Linked DNA regions of Homo sapiens. The protein of the gene in region 2 purifies or fractionates together with the protein of the main gene of each other region. This does not show direct contact. Each region holds a gene or a part of one and is shown on either strand. Other genes may lie near its edges.

The links.
Region 1: the proteins of SPPL2A (region 2) and TMED7 fractionate together in Homo sapiens (co-fractionation; one large-scale study listed by BioGRID). This does not show direct contact.

What each region holds. Positions count from the first base shown.
Region 1 is NC_000005.10:115,615,884-115,619,698, forward strand, and holds part of TMED7 (transmembrane emp24 domain-containing protein 7 precursor), read right to left. Parts: intron 3,317-3,815; exon of another isoform or gene 3,256-3,316; intron 563-3,255; coding exon 326-562; 3' UTR 1-325. Other genes in the region: TMED7-TICAM2 (TRAM adaptor with GOLD domain isoform 1 precursor), read right to left, coding at 435-562. UniProt on the Homo sapiens protein: Potential role in vesicular protein trafficking, mainly in the early secretory pathway. Appears to play a role in the biosynthesis of secreted cargo including processing and post-translational modifications.
Region 2 is NC_000015.10:50,762,717-50,767,088, forward strand, and holds the start of SPPL2A (signal peptide peptidase-like 2A isoform 1 precursor), read right to left. Parts: upstream 2,991-4,372; 5' UTR 2,818-2,990; coding exon 2,752-2,817; intron 1-2,751. UniProt on the Homo sapiens protein: Intramembrane-cleaving aspartic protease (I-CLiP) that cleaves type II membrane signal peptides in the hydrophobic plane of the membrane. Functions in FASLG, ITM2B and TNF processing.

The DNA.
Region 1 (3,815 bases), on a different chromosome or scaffold from region 2:
AAAAGTAGTCTTAAATGGTTAAAAGGAATCAAAATACCAAAGTTTAGTGTGCGAAGAGTAGATATAAACAACTGCGAACAGAGTAGATCATTGGTGTTGAATATTTAACATGAATAGCCCAAAATGAGTTCCAAAGTTTTTCCACCTTTACAAATAAAAAAAGGTGTCCTTTCCACAGTTTGGGAATATGCATTGTACATCCCTCCCAACAAGTGTATGAGTAAGGATTTAAAAATGTTGCCAATATTAAGTTCTTCAGTACCTAAAATTAATTAGAGGACAGCAATATTACAGTGGCAATGGTGCATCAATTCTCAAAACGTAGTTATGATCCAACACGAGTTGTGGTGGTTCTTTTATCTGAGAAAAAGCTTTTCAAAAGAAATACCTGCCCTATGCTAACCACCAGAAGAATGAGGGCTTCTCCTACTGACCAATAGGCCACTCTTGTATTTAGATCCTCTGCTCGGCTTCGGCCTTGAGCTTCTCTTAAACGGAAATGAGTCTGATAATCGATGACAGACTTCAGAGCTTCGTGAATTGAAACACAGGCAGATTCCATCTGCAGAGAAATATTTTCAGTCAGTATGTGTGATACTTTCTGTAGACTTCATCTATCATATTCAGCTTTTCTTTCAATTTGATCTCAATTCCTCTTTTGACTAACATGCTACTAATCTGGCATTCATTCATACATTTATGCCAGTTGTCTTTGCAATGAAACCCCCCTGCTCATTTTCACTGGGACAACTGTTAAGGCTAGAGATCTCATGAAGCAGCTGTTTTCCCCAACTGAGATGTCACAGCCATGGCATCAGTAAGGGGGCAGATGGAACACTAAGCTAACAATAGCAGAAATACTTATCAGCTAAGGTTGGTGACTACAGAATTTCCAGCCCAAGTTCTTTAAAGAAGAATTAGGAAGAAAATGGCAGTGAGCTCACCAATGAGAATATAAGTCAAAGCCCAAATATCTATAAAAATAAACAAAGCACAGTACAAAAAAAAGCTGAATTAGTCAAAGTTCTTTGAACTATGTTTAAAACAGCCACAACATCAAAATCGTTAGTAACTTTTAAATCTGAAAGGGATCTATCAGAATAGGAATGACTTTGTTTTTTTACATTTATCTATTTGTTAAATCAGCCTTTTCCCTCATGCCAGTCAACTAAACCAATATGTATGTTCCCAACAGGATGCAAGTTTCAGTTTCACTGTGTAATCAATTTGTGAGCCTTTAGCTGATAACAGCTTGCCTTTTTATACATTTATTATACCATCTGTTTTGAGAAAGGTTAAATGACTAGTTTTTTTGTATACCATGGTTTAATATTTTTCTACTGCTGCAAACTTAATCCTAGTGGTAAAATATATGTTTTATTATTATTTTATGCAACAAGCCTGTATTAAGAGTTTTAAAAACAAATCTAAGTTTGTTTTAATTTTAGTTAAGGAATATAGAAATTAGAAAATAATGTTTAATGAAGTTCTGCCAAAGTAAGTATGAAAGGAATAATTATTAAAATATTCTATTAAAAGTGCTTTTAAAAAATGTAAGAAATTATGAGGCCAACAAACTGCATTAACCTATTAGAAGAGTCAAATATTTTTGTTGTCCTTGCTTTGTTCAGGCCCCTAGGAATGAAAAATTTGCAAAACTGTGCTAAAATGATTCCTAATTTGTGATGAGGAGCTAGAGAGAGATGTGCTTCTAGGATTTGCTTTCTCTATATTCTCAAAATGGCATATTGCCCAAGGATTCTTCACCTGGAAAGTACACATAAAGGCAAGGAGTTGACCCAAATGCAGAATATTTAGGAACTCCTTCAAGCCTGTCCATGGGGTATGGGTTAAGAACTACTGGATTAGAGAAAATCACAGAAATTAAATTACATGCATTCTACAACTTTTGAGATGTGACTTTTTTTGAGATGGAGTCTCGCTCTGTCACCCAGGCTGGAGTGCAATGGCGCAATCTTGGCTCACTGCAACTTCCACCTCCTAGGTTCAAGTGATTCTCCTGCCTCAGCCTCCTGAGTAGCTGGGATTACAGGTGCACTCCACCACATCCAGCTAATTTTTGTATTTTTAGTAGAAACAGGGTTTTACCATGTTGGTCAGGCTGGTCTCTAACTACTGACCTCATGATCCGCCCGCCTCGGCCTCCCAAAGTGCTGGGATTACAGGCGTAAGCCACCACGCCTGGCCTGAGATGTGATTTTTAAAAAACTTTTACAGTGAAAACTTCCATATATATTCAAAAGTATTGAGAAAAGTACAATGAACCCCCACCATGTCAACAAAGATTAACACATGGCTAATCTTGCTTCATCTACATTCCCCGATTATTTTTAAAGCAAATCTCAGATATTTTATCACTTCAGCTACAAATACTTTTATACTTTATTTCTAAAAGATAACACTTTTTAAAAACATAACCCCAATAGTATTATAACACATGAAATAATCTAAAACAGTTCCTTAAAGTCAGGAAATAGTGTTCAAATTTCCCCTATTGTTTCAAAGTTGGTTTTCAAGTAAGAATCCAAGTAAGGTTAACACAATCATTTGGCTGATGTAAGTGTTCATTAATCTTTAGGCTTTCTTCCTTGTTTTTCCTTTTTTCCTTGCCATCAACCCCTATCCTGTGGCATTTCCCACGTCCTGGATTTTGTTGATTGCATTCCCATGTTATTCCTTTATCCTCTGTATTTCTTGTAAACTGGCATTTGGAGCTAGAGACTTGATGGAATTCAGGTGCAATGTTCTGGGTGGGAACGTCTAGTAGTCAATGTTGTGTACTTCTTACTGCATATTATGATAAGGCACATAATGTCTAGTTATCTCTCCATTTGTGAATGATCATTCAGTCTGATCCACTCAGTATAAAGTTCCCCATCAGCCTTTTACTTAATGGTTTTAGTAGTGACTGCTGATCATTGCCTACTCTAAATCCATCATTTTATCAACAGGTAAAAAATGGTGAGAGTAAAACTTTTATCATTTATTCTGCATTACTAGCTGGTAATTTTGTTCTGAACTTACTAGCTGGTAATTTTGTTCTGAACTTACTAGCTGGTAATTTTCAATTTTAAAGTATGAAAAGTTGCTTTATAATGATCCCTATTATATGATACATTATCTTTTTGAAAGTAGAAAAATAAGACTGAGAAAAATAAAAAATGTAGCATGGATAAAGACGGGTATGATACTAACTGCTTTATTACCATTCATTTCTTATATTTACCCACTTAGGTTTTTAGAACAAGCCACCTTATACAAGTTAAAATTCATGAAGGAATGGATACAGGTTAAGGTAATGGCCCCAAAGAAATATCATTTTACAAAGCAAGGTGTCCTTCACACAAGACCTTAAAATAAAGAGAACATTTCTAAAATTAAGAGTATTTGAATATATCTTGCTAATTCTAACAACAGGTTTATGAATTAAGGCTTTTACACATTCTTAAAGCTGTTTCTTTCACCATGACTTTGGCCAAGAGACTAAATAGAACCTGGGAACACTAAAATACCAGTTTAAGATGTTAACGAATAAGTGGTAAATAATTCTTTTTCATGCCTAATTGAGTAACTTTTAGATACGATCTAAGCCCATACAGGTTGAGTATCCCTTATCCAAAATGTTTGGGACCAGAAGTGCTTTGAATTTCAGATTTTTTCTGATTTTGGAATGTCTACATATACATAATGAGATATCTTTGTGATGGAACCCAGGTCTAGACATGAAATTCATTTATGTTTCATATATGCCTTATACATGCAGCCTTAAGGCAACTGTATATGATATTTTCAAT
Region 2 (4,372 bases):
AGTTTCTTTTTTTCTTTTCTTTTTTTTTTTTTTTGAGATGGAGTCTCGCTCTGTCACACAGGCTGGAGTGCAGTGGCACGATCTTGGCTTACTGCAACCTCTGCCTCCCGGGTTCAAGCAATTCTTCCGCCTCAGCCTCCCAAGTAGCTGGGATAACAGGCACGCACCACCACGCCCGGCTAATTTTTTTTTTTTTGTATTTTTTTTTAGTAGAGACGGGGTTTCACCATATTGGCCAGGCTGGTCTCAAACTCCTGACCTTGTGATCCACCCACCTGGACCTCTCAAAGTGCTGGGATGACAGGCGTGAGCCACCACGCCCGGACAAGTAGTGCCAGTTTCAAGAGCCCAGAGAGGAGAAATGAAATGATTGAGCTGGCATCACTAATCAAAGGAACTCAGAAAGGCTACCTAGAGCTGTAAAATTAGGGAAGAGGAATAAACAAAGGGCTTCAGGGAGAAAATGGTAGAAGACTTCAGACAGAGTTGGAGGAAAGGAACTAGGTATCCAGAAAGGAGAAAGAACTCCAGCTGAGGAAAAGGAAACCAGATCTACCCAAGTTCTCAGAACACGAAAGGAATGAGAAAGAACATCTCAGGAAATTAAAGGAAGGAGGAACCAAGAAGAAAACAAATCCATAAAGAAATCAACAAGAAATAGAAAAATCAGTGATACTAGCTGGTATCGAAAAAAGATCCTTACAATTTAAACAGATATTGTCAGTTTATTCAGTCATCAGGACATTACATCCCATATAATAAGATGCACACCAAACATTTGCAGTGTAGAAAAATGTTACTTAATCTTCACAACAACCCTAGAACCGAGGAATATAGAACCCGAGATTACCATGGTGAGGTACAACAAAGCACATAGGTGCAATATAAAAGGCCTAAAATCGCCGGGCATGGTGGCTCACGCCTGTAATCCCAGCACTTTGGGAGGCCGAGGAGGGTGGATCACGAGGTCAGGAGTTCGAGACCAGCCTGACCAACATAGTGAAACCCCCATCTCTACTAAAAATACAAAAATTAGCTGGGCATGGTGGTGCTTGCCTGTGATCCCAGCTACTCGGGAGGCTGAGGCAGGAGAATTGCTTGAACCTGGGAGGCGGAGGTTGCAGTGAGCCGAGATCGCGCCACTGCACTCCAGCCTGGGCGACAGAGTGAGACTCCGTCTCGAAAAAAACAAAAACAACAACAAAAAAAGGCCTAAAATCCAGAACGTGGGAGACAGCCTAGATACAATTTAGAACAGGGATGATCTTTAGATTTGTGAAGGCTATGAAATCAAATGACAAGTCTACTTAAGTAGAGTTTTCTGGTGAGAGGGCTCAGGGCCTTTAATAAGAATTTCAATGTGAGTTTATGAGGAACTGATGTATCACTAAGCTATTAATTTATGTTGAGAAGGGATTAGTACGAATGTGATATTCATTCTTAAAATCAGCTCAAGAGATTCAAATGAAAATGAATGCAAAAACACTTTGAAAAGTTTTATATCTAGGTTATAGTTTTGCATACATCTACATACTATCTGAATATCTTTTGGACATAAGTATTATCTGTCTGATTACACAGTAAACACCTTAAAGACTCCGACTAACACTGCTACTTTGTTGCTCTTTTTATATCGAACTCCCCTCCCCCAGCAATTTTTAGATACATTCTCTCAGGTTCCTGATGTTGCCTGTCAAAGTTATGAATACACCAAAAGGCACTTACTTTTTGGCTTAGATTTTGGTTTTTCAATAAATATTAAAGACACTTTTGTATTCACTAATACTAACCCCTTAAACTGGAGAGTCAGCAAAACAGTCTTTCAAAGAAATCACACATTCTAATAGAACGAAACAAGCTTACACGACACCAATTCTGTAATAAATAACATGCGTAAGTTTCCAACCTGAAACTCCCTAAGTAAAAGTCACTAGAAACAAAAACTGAAACACCGGGTTCCTGACACCCCACTCCCACACTGAAGCTCGAATTACTTGAGGCTGAATTTTAAAACACTATTACTTCTCTGTGACTATGAAAACAAATCTATGAACACATATTTCTTACTTACATTTAACCGACGCTCCCCACCCATCCCTTTAAATTAGGCAGAAAACTGAAAACCACTAAAAGCATTACATTTTGGTGTCTTCTTTTAAAAGTTATTTTAAATTACTGCTATTAAAACCCCCCCTCCAAAAAAAAAAAACCCTCATAACAGAATCAAATGAGCCCTAAGGCGAAGCAGGAGCTACAGTGGGGGAAGGGAATTTTAAAAAGACATCCGTGTTAGTGCAATTAAAGTGCAGTCCTCGAACCGCTAAACATACTGGCGCCTTGTATAATTTTTTTTTCTTCCCAAGGGTAAAAAGCGGTAAGAAAGGCTTAGACAATAAAACCCAGAGGTCAATTTTAAATATGCTGGGACAGTGAGCAACTATCGAGAAGCATCAAGGTCAACGCAACCTAAGGGGCTCCTCTGATCTTTTTGCGGTAGGTATTTCGCCAGACTTCAATGGGCGGGAACCGAGTGGGGGGCGGGAAAGTTGGGGGAAAGAGGGTGGAAAAGAGGAGGGTGGAAGGAAAGAGATGAGTAATGGAAAGAGGAGGGGAGGAAAGAGGAGTGCGAGAGCAGGCCGCGGAGGTGCGGGCAGAGGGGAGGCCGGGCGAGGAGTAGGGGAAGGGAGCCCCGGCCTTGGCCCCGGCCCCGCCCAGCCCCTGGGAGGCCTGCGCGCCTTCCCGCCCCCTTACCAGCTGGAGCAGGAAGCCCCAGAGTAGGGCGGCCCCGGCAGGGGACAGCCGCCGCTGCGGCCCCATCGGACTGGTGGGTGCCGGGTGGGACGGCACGGTGCGGCGCAGCTCACTCGGCGGGGTAGGCTCGGAGTCCCGCCGCTGCGCTGCCTCCGTGGCCGGACCGGACCGGACAGGCGCGGGCGGCCGGGCTACGACTGGACCGCCGCTGCTACAGCGGCCGCCACAGCAGCGCGACTTCCTCTTCCGGCCCCGCCCGTAAGATGCGGAAACCCCCGCGCCGGGCTCGGAGAGTCCCAGCGCTCTCCCGGTATCCAGGCGTCCCGGCGTCCCGGCGCTACGAGGCCACCGGCTGCGGGTCTGAGCCTGTCGCTTTCCGGCTGCCCGACTTTAACTCACACCGAAGCCTGGCGGGAGAACGGATTTCTCAAGGCTCGGAAGTGTCTGAGCGTCTGCTCGGTTCCCCAGTAACTACCCGAGTGTTGCATGCAGCCAGAAATCTAAGGGTCACCCTAATTCATCTGCCTGTCATTTGTTCCTGGCCACTCTGACTCACCACATAACCCAGATCCATCCACTTTCTCCAGAACTGCTGCCACCACTCTATCCAGGCCACCAACTTCCCTCTCCTCCAAACGGGTCTCAGTTTCCCCTCCGGACAGCCCAGTAGCCACATAACAGTCCCAGAGCCATCTTTCAAAACATATAAGTCAGATCATGTCTCTCTCTATCACACTTGGAATAAAATAAAAACTTGGCCGGGTGTGATGGCTCACACCTGTAATACCAGCATTTGGATGGCCGAGGTGGGCGGATCACAAGGTCAAGAAATCGAGACCATCCTGGCCAACATGGTGGAACCAAGTCTGTACTAAAAATACAAAAAATTAGCTGGGCGTGGTGGCACGCACCTGTCGTCCCAGCTACTCGGGAGGCGGAGGCAGTAGAATCGCTTGAACCGGGTAGGCGGAGGTTGCAGTGAGCCGAGATTGTGCCACTGCACTCCAACCTGGGCGACAGAGCGAGACTCGGTCTCCAAAAAAAAAAAAAAAAAAAAATCAAAACTCTACTCTAGCCTGCAAAGGTAAATCTGGCCCCTGCCTTCCTGTCTCCCCATCTTCACTACTTTCCCACACTTTAAGGCGCACGGACCTTTGGCCCTCCCGGCCTTTGCTCTGGTGGGCCGCCCGGACTTTGCTCTGGTAGTCCTCCCTGCTGGAGTGCTCTTCTCTCCAAAGCTCAGAATGCCTGCCTTGTTGACATTCACTTATCAGCTTCAATGTCGCTTCCCCAGACGGGACTTCCTGACATACCCAATCTAAAGTACCTGTCCAGTCACTTTCTTTTCTTTTCCTTTCTCTTTTTTTTTTTTTTTTTTTTTTGAGACGGAGTTTCGCTTTTCTTGCCCAGGCCGGAGTGCGATGGTGCAATCTCGGCACACTGCAACCTCCGCCTCCCAGGTTCAAGCAATTCTCCTGCCTCAGCCTCCCCAGTAGCTGGGATTACAGGCGCGTGCCACCACACCCGGCTAATTTTGTATTTTTAGTAGAGACGGGGTTTCACCATGTTGGTCAGGCTGGTCTCAAACTCTCGACCTCAGGTGATCCACCCGCTTTGGCCT